Linked DNA regions of Homo sapiens: region 2 is linked to region 1. The links come from fine-mapping of genetic effects on plasma protein levels. Region 1 holds a variant in brackets. A gene starts in the other region. All regions are shown on their reverse strands. Region 1 overlaps DMBT1 (deleted in malignant brain tumors 1). Region 2 holds the start of REG1A (regenerating family member 1 alpha).

The links. A credible set is the group of variants that fine-mapping cannot tell apart. PIP is the chance, under the fine-mapping model, that this variant and not a neighbour inherited with it causes the effect. The UK Biobank Pharma Proteomics Project read protein levels with antibody pairs (Olink). The fine-mapping took linkage between variants from a reference panel, not from the people measured, so its PIPs are less certain.
Region 2: it holds the start of REG1A, and the variant in region 1 is the best candidate, but not a certain one, in a credible set for the plasma level of the REG1A protein (UK Biobank, PIP 0.54).

The regions. Positions count from the first base shown.
Region 1 is chr10:122,632,590-122,637,965 of GRCh38, reverse strand. DMBT1 (deleted in malignant brain tumors 1) reads right to left here. Exons shown (of 56, transcript NM_001377530.1): 51 at 5,076-5,105; 52 at 4,625-4,775; 53 at 1,767-1,975; 54 at 654-838. Among named protein-coding and RNA genes, the nearest start is that of SPADH, 38 kb to the left of the region's middle. The variant T/C (reference allele first, on the strand shown) is at 2,918.
Region 2 is chr2:79,118,486-79,123,861 of GRCh38, reverse strand. REG1A (regenerating family member 1 alpha) reads right to left here and starts at 3,374. Exons shown (of 6, transcript NM_002909.5): 1 at 3,348-3,374; 2 at 2,937-3,046; 3 at 2,182-2,300; 4 at 1,737-1,874; 5 at 910-1,021; 6 at 453-714. The coding sequence starts at 3,000. The coding sequence ends at 647.

The sequences.
Region 1 (5,376 bases):
ATAGTTGCAGCCACCTTCAAGCCTGTAGAGAAGGGACACACCATATTGGCTTCACTTTCACCCAAAATTGGATGCAGGGGGCCATCTTAGATGGTGATAGCTCAACAAATGGTAGCTGCAGAGGCCAGCTGACTATGGAGCTAATGAAGCTGAAGCTTTTGGGCCCCCTCTTCCCTGCCTACTGCAATGTGCAGGCCTCCTCCAAGGCCTAGCAATGTGTTTGCACAGCCATACGTTTTTGCAAAGTTTATAAAAGTTCATAGATATTGCATTCTTTGACTTAATGAGGCCCCTGCCCATCTCAACACCTGCCTCTCACCCCCAACCCTAACTGTATAAGCTTCAGGCCCTGCAAAATCTGGAGCTGCTCCAGGAGCTGCTGTTGTTATTGCTGATGGGAGTGGCGGTCTGCCAGAAGCCCTCTCTGCTGGACACAGCTGGAGATACTCTTTCTGCTCAGCTTCCTTCTTCCTATTTGGAAGTAGCTGCAGCCATATCATAGCACCAAAGGTTTTTTATCTTCCTTTATTCCAATTATGTCCTGATTATCCCAAAATCATAATTTCTTCATCCCCAGAATTCAAGAAGCACAGGACATACCGCTCTAAGAAAGCTTGTGCACTGGGAAATGGAATGGGAAGCCCCAGGCTTACCTGCTTGAAGGTGCCGCAGCCTGAGTAGGGAATTGTGAATATCACCAGGTTCGGCGTTATCTGGGGCCGACACTCGTAGTATCCATTCCAGGTGGAAATGACAAGGTCACTGGCAGAAAAGCCCAAGGATTGGAGATAGCTCCTGCTCACACTGGCTTGCATGTGATTTGGCAGACAGAGCAGGTCTGATAGACAAGGACAGATAAGGCACTCAGTCACTGCCCCAGACTCCACAAGTCCTACGGGGCCAGAGGCTGTTTCCACTTAAAAAGTGCACAGACCAGGGTGGCTGACAGGGAGGGTCAGCACTTAGGATGTGGGCATAGACCTCACTGCAATCCCCCAAGGACCCGAGGGTCAAGTCAGCCCCATCCTTATGAAAGCCCAAGGAGAGCACGTGGACTCAGGATTTCTCTGATGGAGAATTGGAGGCAGGATTTTTAAATAAGTGGTATGTTTGGCCAAGTTACCATTTATCTATAAAGTAAAGTAACTGTATGATCAAATTGTGGGAATGTCATGAAACAAGGTCTTTTAGCCATGAAGCAAGTCAGTCTTTAATCCTGACTGCATAAGAGACCCTGGATGTCACCTTGCCTGGCCCTTGGCCATTCTACATATCAGTCCATACAGCAACTCAAATCATGGCCATACAGGCTCTGCTGGAAGTGTCTGAGTGACCTTATCTCAGCCACTTCCAGCCACCCAGCTCAGTCCATCTTCAGATAGAAACCAAATGTGTTAGGTCTCAGGCCATGGCCACAGTGTCCCACACTCTGAGAAGGTCACAAGGTTTCAAGCCAAGAGGTCACCTCTGCCTTTGGCACTGACTCATCACTCTCCACGAAGAGCATCATCTGGGACCCTCTACTTAGTCTCTGCTGACCACAGTAAGACCAATCATCACCCATCAGCCAGTTCTAGCCCTGACTTTATTTCTGGGCAGCCAGAGTCCCAAGTCCCACTGCTCCTGGTCCCTTTCAGCTGAAAATCAAGCCCTGGTGACCTGAAAGGGTTCCTTCATTTCTTATTTCACAACAACAGGACAGTTGAGCCACAGATGCTCTCAGGATGTCCCCAGTCCCAACAGAGCATTTCCACAAGGGGACTTACTGGTGCTGTCATTGGAGGGACTGGAGTAGTACTCAGCCCGGAACCCTCTCCTTGTGATGCTGTGGTCACTGATGAAGCGAATGGACATGAAGTTGGAGGAAGAAGTGAAGGAGCCTCTGGCCCCATCACAAACTCGAGCAATGAGAGGGGAACTGCGGTAGGGGCCATCGAAAACTTCAATATAATCATAGTTGCAGCCACCTTCAAGCCTGCAGAGAGAGGACACACCATTTGGCTTCATTTCCTCCCAGAATTTGACGCAGGGGGTCAGATCTCAGGGTGGGGTCACACCTCTGTGCCAGAAACTCTGACAAAGTTCATCGATGAAAGTCATAGGTCTCCTTGGCTGGGCGCAGTAGCTCACACTTATAATCCCAGCACTTTGGGAGACCAAGGCAGGTGGATCATCTGAGGTCATAAGTTCGAGACCAGCCTGGCCAACGTGGTGAAACCCTGTCTCTACTAAAAATCCAAAAATTAGCCGGGCGTGGTGGCACAAGCCTGTAGGGTGAGGGAGGCTACTCAGGAGGCTGAGGCAGGAAAATCACTTGAACCAAGGAGGCAGAGGTTGCAGTGAGCCGAGATCGTGCCACTGCACTCCAGTTTGGGCGACAGAGTGAGGCCCTGTCTCAAAAAATAAAAAGAAAAATAAAAATTGAAACAAAAGAAAGTCATAGGTATCCTTAAATCAAGAGAGTCTCATCTTCCCTCAACCTCCATGCCTGGGTCTTAGTCCTGCCCTTTGCAATCACACATATGAAATCTACAGCCCCTCACCTGTCAGCCCTTTACATCAGGAAAGGAAGGGCTCGCATCCTGATTTAGACCATTTTTCTTCCATCGAAAAGTCCCTAGTGCCCCCACAGAATAAAATCAATATGCATGAATTCATAGTGAGAGAAATAAATAATTGAATAAATAAATACTGGGCAAGTCAAATAATCTCTCTAAAGCTTTTCCTATTTACAAAGGCAAAGTAATCTGATCCATGCACACTGAAGAGGGCTATGGTGAAGCTCAAATAAAACAACATACAGAAAAGGGCTTTGTAAAATGTCACAAATGGTGATGGTCATTGCTATCAAGATGCTGGTTAAAGAACCAGTCATGGTCAACCTTTTCCCATAGGACTGCATCAGCTTTAAGTGCAA[T/C]CTTTGTATTGTAATGACAAAGAGAATAAAATGATGTATCTTTTGCAAAATCCCAAATGAATCACTAAAGCAGAGACTCCAAAGCCCACTGCAAACAGAAATCAACAGGGAAAACTATTTTGTTCAACAGTGGCTGTTAGAGAAGAAATTAGTGTAGCCCCTTGTTCAGGACACTAGCAAACACTGGTGCCTCTTCACAGTTAGCTGGGCCACCCGCCTCCTTGGATAAATCATATATTAATGTACTTTTGACATCAGGCATGGTGGCTCACACCTGTAATCCCAGCACTTTGGGAGGCCGAGGTGGGAGGATAACCTGAGGCCAGGAGTTGAAGACCAGCCTGACCAATATGGTGAAACCCCGTCTCTAATAAAAATACAAAAATTAGCCAGGCATTGTGGCGTGTGCCTGTAAGCCCAGCTACTTGAAAGGCTGAGGCAGGAGAATCGCTTGAACCCGGGAGGCAGAGGTTGCAGTGAGCCGAGACCGTGCCACTACATTCCAGCCTGGGTGACAGAGCGAGACTCCATGTCCGGAAAAAAAAAGAAAGAAAGAAAAAGAGAGAAAGAGAGAGAGAGAGAGAGAGAGAGAGAGAGAGAGAGAGAGAGAGAGAGAGAAGAGAGAGAGAGAGAGAGAAAGAAAGAAAAGAAAGAAAGAAAGAAAGAAAGAAAGAAAGAAAGAAAGAAAGAAAGAAAGAAAGAAAGAAAAGTGCTTTTAGTAATGTCCTCTCTGCTTAAAACGATGATTTCTACTTATGATTGGATGCAGAGCAGATACCCTACCCTCTGGAGCAGCAATTCCTCCATCTCTGCCCGACCCCTGGGGAACTCACATGAAGAAAGGAATGGGTGGAGAAAAAGGGTTCCACAAAACAGATACAATTGTTCTTTTTGTTTTGTTTTGTTTTCCTGAGACAGGGTCTCGTTTTGTTCCACAAGCTGGAGTGCACTGGCGCTATCATAGTTCACCACAACCTTCAACTCCCAGGGCTCTAGCGATTCTCCCACCTCAGCCTCCTTAGTAGCTGGGACTACAGGTGCAGGCCACCACACCCAGCTAATTTTTGTACTTTTTTGTAGAGATGGGGGGTCTCCCTATATTGCTCAGGCTGGTCTTGAACTCCTGCATTCAGGTGATCCTCCTGCCTCGGCCTCCCAAAGTGTTGGGATTACAACCCTGAGGCAGCATACCTGGCCAGTGTGGTTGTTAATAGGATTATTAGTGCTATTATTGCCCCTAAGTCTATCATTACTACTTAACAACCATCTTTTCCACTGGACAACATTTTGTAAATATTTTCACATCTCTCTCCCTCTCTCTCCTCTCTGTTTCTCGTGACCTTCCCAGTAAACAGTGAGGTGAGGAAAGCAGGTATTTTATTCCCCTCTTTTGACTGAGGCTCAGGAAAGTTGAGTGACTTCCTGTGGTCACACAGCAAATTGGTGAAAGACCTAGGACTTGAAACCAGAGCTTTTGTCCACTCCAAGGCTCTCGTGCCCCCTCCCCAACTCTCCACGGGATGCCTCTGGGCTAGGTCAAAAATGTCTCTCAGCAAACTTCTCTCCTGGCTTTCTAAGCACCATTTATTCCCTCTTGAAAGGTCTGTGGGGCCCCAAGGCATTCTTCTGGGCGCACACTTAAGCACCATTTATTCCCTCTTGAAAGGTCTGTGGGGCCCCAAGGCATTCTTCTGGGCGCACACTTACTGGACATCTCTGAAGATCACAGTCACACGGTAGTTGTTTTGCACCTCAATGTCCCACACACACTTGGCATTGTTTGGATAGTTCCCGGGATAGAATGGGCTGGAAAAGTCCCCTGATGGTTGGGATAGGAAGCCTCCGCAGGAATAATCTGCTGTCAGGACAAAAAGTGGGAATGTCGGTGACCCCCAGAGCACACTGCACAGTCTACCTGCGGACTACTTTAAATTTAAATTACTTTAAAATTTTATAAAATAATTCCCAAGACAGAAACCAAGTAAGAGCAAGAGGTGGCCTAGATCTGGACCGTCCACTGAGGGCTGGCAGGGCACTCTTGCAGGGAGACCACTTTGGGGGAAGCCATCTCCTCCCCAGCCCCATTGTCACTGAGGAAATGGGAAGGGGAATTTCCAGGCCACTCTGCCACAGACTTGTCAGGGAGCTCAGAACTTACTGTTTGGACGGGTGATGTTGAGAAAAGGAGCTGTTGACAAAAAGAAAAGATCAGGATCAGTTTTCTGGCATCCCTGACACAGCTGTCGACTGCTCATGAGCTGTGCAGATGCTGTGCCAAGCCTGAGTCCACAGGGAGGAGCTGGACACAGGCCTTGCCCTTGGGGAGCTCACTTGCCTTTGGGGAGGTCTGGAGGAGAGCGAATCCCAGCACACTGGGAAAAGGATGAGATTGACCAAAGCCTGGGGAAGGAGAGGAGCCTGGAAGTCTGGCCCCTGCCCCAGATGGAGTGGGGAAAAAA
Region 2 (5,376 bases), not on the chromosome of region 1:
CAAAAGAATACTACTTGCTGAAGACGCTGATGATTGTTAGCATTTTTTAGCAATAAAATACTATTTCATTAAAGTATGTATATTTCTGTTTAGATATAATGCTATTGCTCGTATAATAGACTACAGTAAAACATTTATATGCAAAGGGAAGCAAAAAAAAAAAAACCTGTGTAACTTGCTTTTCTGTGACATTACCCTTATTACAGTGATCTGGAACTGAATGCAAAAATCTTTGAGATATGCCAGCATGTGAGTTTTTGGTCAATCTCCATCTTGTTAACCTTGTCATAAGCAAAGCCACATATGTTCATAAATACTGAATTCCAATATGCATGGTATGCGGATGGACTTTTAAGAAGTGGATAGGCCAGAGCAAGCTTTGTTGTAATCACTCTCATCTCAACCACCCAGGCATCAGCTGTGGAAATAGCAGACACAGTAAGACAGCACAATAGTGGAAACATGTTTATTTTTATTATTTAGGGTTCCAAAGACTGGGGTAGGTAAAACTATTGAAGATTAACAAGGCAAACTCAGCAGAGAAGAGAGTGTCCAGGTTGAGTTGAGTTGGAGAGATGGTCCGGTTTAATTTTTGACTCCGTTGTAATTGCTGGATCAGTTCTAGACATGTATTTTCCAGTTGCCTCTAGTTTTTGAACTTGCAGACAAAGGAGAACTTGTCTTCACAAGGCACATCCTTCCATTTCTGGAATCCTATAAGTCAATGAGAAGAGTTACAACTGGGAGACCCGAAAGAGTATGACCCTCCTGGCTTTAGGACTCAGGACAAAAACCAAACATCCATTTCCTTAATGAGGAGTTCACCTTTCCTCTATCCCAGTCCCAGTTCCATCCCTGGAGCTAAGCAGGAGAGAACAGAAACAGGTGGATGGATTCTCTGCCTCTCACCTGTGCTTGAGGTCAGGCTCACACAGTAGCCAGGATTAACACTGCTTGGGGCTCCAATGCCCCAGGACTTGTAGGAGACCAGGGACCCACTGCTCCAGTGCCAGCGGCGGTTCTAGATGGGGAAGGGCCAGAACAGAGGCAGTGGTCACTCAAAAATACATGGAATCACTGGGCCTGTGTGCACACTCAGAAACATGCTAAGACACAAAGGAAGAATAAACCTTGCTAAATATTGTTTCCTTTCCTTTGCTATTGCTCTAAACTTCTTTCCTGAACTGTCCAACTCATTAACTGTATTCCACCAAGAAATAAGTGTTATGAATTTGACAGAGACCCAAAGTATCTCACTTAAAAAGTGGTTCCTGATTTTTTGTCTTTGTGGCCCAGGACCCTCATATCCAGCATAGCATTGGCTGACCATTAGTTGTTGATATATTATATTATTTAGTATACTACCAGGTTCCCAAATGCCAGCAGTACAGCAGCAGATTTTTACCACAAGTCTCCTTTCCTATATAGTCGGCAATCTAGTCTCTCTTGTGACTCTGACAGTAACAAAATAGGTAAGAAGTTGGTGCATAAAGATGCTTTGTTGACTGAAAACAGAATAAGTTTATTCATGAATGACAAGAACACCTAGGAAATTCAGCCTTCCACTTATATCTCCAATCATCTACAGTGCACCTTGCTACACAGGACATTAGAGGATCTGTAAACAGCCTGATTTCTGGAAAGCGATAAAAGCTGGTACTTAAGAGACCAGAACTTGAACCTCCTTCTTACTTCTCAAACCTGATCATTAGGAGATAAAGAAGGCTGCAGCCTACCTTTTTGGGGTCATGGAGGCCAATCCAGACATTGAAGTCATCAGTGCCACTCTCCTTAATCAGTGAGGCCACAAAGGCACCCTCGGCCTGGGTGAGCACAGACACCAGGTTGCCCGAATTCATGTTCTGGCAATAGAGCTGTTGCAGAAGAAAATGGAGCACTCAGTGGAGGAGGAAGTTGTGACGGATATACTGAGTCCTCCAAGAGGACGGGTCAGAAAAAGGACAGCAGAGTAATGTCCGTGATGATGCTGTCACTGACCACCAGGTTCTTTGTGCTGGGAATGTGCTGAATAATGGGATAAAGTAGATTGGAAAGTTTGGGGCTGATGATAGTATAGCAAGGGGTTCAGTCTCATCTCATTGCAGCCACTGAACACACTGGAGAGTGGCAGCTTCCCCTCCCTTCATGAGTCTCCCTTCCCACACTGCTCTCCTCACTCACATCTGCATCAACCCAGGTCTCACGGTCTTCATTAAAGTAGTAGCAGTAGGAGCGATAGGCATTGGTGCCTTCTGGGCAGCTGATCCGGGCCTGGGGCAACTCTGTCTGGGCCTCTTGGCCTGAAAAAGAAGAGACAATTAAAGGAGGCTCTCAGGGTAAGGAAAAGGCTTGAAGGTGAGGTAAGAGCTTCTGAGGTTCCTTTATAGAAACAGAAGAATCCAGTCTATTATGGGATGACTGCTCACTATTGCTCCTGCATCCTACATCTTCTGTCTTTGGTTTCTTTGATCAGGGGAAAAAAAACAGAATGAATAGGCCAAAGAAACAAGTCTCCAGTTTCCCTTTTATGTCTGGAGCTCAGGCTCTTCTACCTTGAAGGACTCAGCCTTCTACTTTCTCAAGCCTGACTTGGTTTCCCTGAACACAAGGCTCTCTTCAGTTCTCCACCCCATTAGTGACTGTCTACACACAGACATCCCCAAATCCACCATCACGTATAAATTTAATCAGATAAACTCATGCCAACTGCAGCAGTTGCTTATAAGGGGTCATTTTAAATTCTAGCTCCAACTCCTTAATGAGGTGTGGATGTATATAAATGTGAAGAGATCAGCAATAAAGATCACTAAACACCACAAAACAACCCTTAACAGTGACTCTGCTTTTTTTTTTTTTTTCAAGTAGACCCGTATGCTTGGGGATAGAGTGAAGTCTTCAGGGCTAGAAAGAGTTGGTTGGTGGAAAAGAGATCTTACCTTGGCTCTGAGACAGAAACATCAGGCAGGAGATCAGCATGAAGTATGAGCTGGTCTGAGCCATGCTGAGCTGCAATGAATCTCTTGCTTAAGAGGCAAATCAACAATCTCTATAGGAGAACACAGAGAAGGGGGTTCTGAGAGATGGAGAGCAAAGCACCTATTACCTTCCTTAAAACCTCCTCTCAGAATTTCTGAGACCAGGAAGGTCCTCTGAGACACCCACACCTTCAAATGTTTCTCTTGAGAGTGGGGATTATACAGACTCAGTAACTGAAAAACAACTTTGGATCCCACTGAGGCTTCATTACAGCTAAAACCTCTTGGACAGAAACTCATGCTGTATCTTCCCGAAGATTTTAGATCTACAGTGCATGTTAGAGACGCCCTTCTCCTGTAATGCCCACTTACCTGTTGGCTGAGTCTGAGTTGGCTTCTCAGGCCAGGTAGCTGTAGGAGCTTTATATCAGGATCTGAGATAAGAACCACGTCATTTAAGCAAAAGGGGTGGGGGCAAGCGGTGAGTTTTGGGAGCATTGACAGTAAGAGATTCTGGCACCAGTACGAGCCTTTTCCCGGCACACACTGGGAGTGGTCACAACTCAGGTCCCCTTCTGGCAAAAAATTTGGCAAGCTGTCTAAGTCCAAGGTGGACTTTGCTCTTGCTCAGCAGAAAACAACTGAGGGCTCCCATGTGCCCTAATAACCCAGAGAGGAGCAGAGAACAGTAGACTTCCTTGTATTCCCTGTAAATTTAGAGGCTCCTCTTTGGTGTCAGGCATGGGTAGGAGATGGGGAAGAATTAACTGATTCCAAATAATTTAGAACAATGTGCTTGTGGCAATAAGTGGTTCCTCCATGTCTTTTTAGGCTCACAAACCTCTCAAGACCTACCTCAAGGGGTAGGTTAAATTTATATTTCTAAACATTTAACATGTCTAACAAGGTTTGAGCTAACAAAATACACATATTCTCAATGTGAGAATTGTAGAGAGCTGATGCCTAAGGAAGCTTAAAGGAGCTAAATATGAAGTCAGGCTTCATTGAAATTGTCCATTTGAAGTCAACTGTTTGTTAGTATGAAGTCAAAGATTGTGTGGTGAAATTGAGTATTTACCAGAATCATCATAGAATAGTCATTTATAATTCAGGGAATAAAAGCCAATCAGAATGCAAAATTAGGAAGAAAAAACTAACCTGAATATTCACAGAAAGAGAGATAAGTATATGAATTGGGACAAATGGATTAACAAAATATAATAAAATACTAAACAGAATTTAAATCGAATAAAGTAGATATCTATATTTCAACTTGGACTAGTATCAAAGCCATAACATTGAATACAAAAATTCAGTTGCAAGAAGTTATAAGCTATTTGATAAACTTTATATATGGTTTTAAAAGACAGATTAATACTAAATTTTATTTATTAATCAATTCTTATACAGTTTAAAAAATAAAAATCTGAAATGTAAGAATATATATTACAATTTGTCATAGTATTTGCCTAACAATTTTAAGGTTTTTTTTTCTTTATATAAAAACTGATGATGGGCCTGGTGTGGTGGCTCAAGCCTGTCATCCCAGCACTTTGGGAGACTGAGATGAGAGGATCACTTGAGCCCAGGAATTCGAGACCAGCCTGGGCAACATAGCGAGACCCCATCTCTACAAAAAAAGTATATATATATATATATATATATATATATATATATATATATATATATATATATATATCCAGATATGGTGGCACATGCCTGTAGTCTCAGCTACTTAAGAGGCTAAGGTGGGGGATTGTTTGAGCTTGGGAAGTAGAGGTTGCAGTGAGTTGTGCCACTGCACTCCAGCCTGGGTGATAGAACAGGGAACTGTCTCAAAAAATAAAAACAAAAACTAACGATATTAAACAAAGATGACAAATGTTAACATTGTTTATTCTCACTGGTTCATATGCATTTGTTAAATTAATCCAAATTTTTTCTGCTTTTACAAAAAGTAGTTATACCTTTTAAAATGATTACAACCAGAGAATGATTCCTATTTTTTTCTATAAATAAGAGATTCAGAAATATTCTTCCGTTAACAAAGGATATAGTAGGGAAGAGTCGGGTATACTTGGTATCATTACATATTTATCTTGTGAAAATTAAACAAGCAATTAATTTTTAAAAAATCTAAGATAAAAATACTTTATGGCATAATGTTTTCTTTTCTTTTTTTAACTTTAATCTTTTTTTTTTTTTTTGAGATGGAGTCTGGCTCTGTCACCCAGACTGGAGTACAGTGGCTCAATCTCAGCTCACTGCAAGCTCCGCCTTTGGGGTTCACGCCATTCTCCTGCCTCAGCCTCCCGAGTAGAGTAGCTGGGACTACAGGCATCCGCCACCACACCCGGCTAAGTTTTTTTATTTTTTTTTATTTTTAGCAGAGATGGGGTTT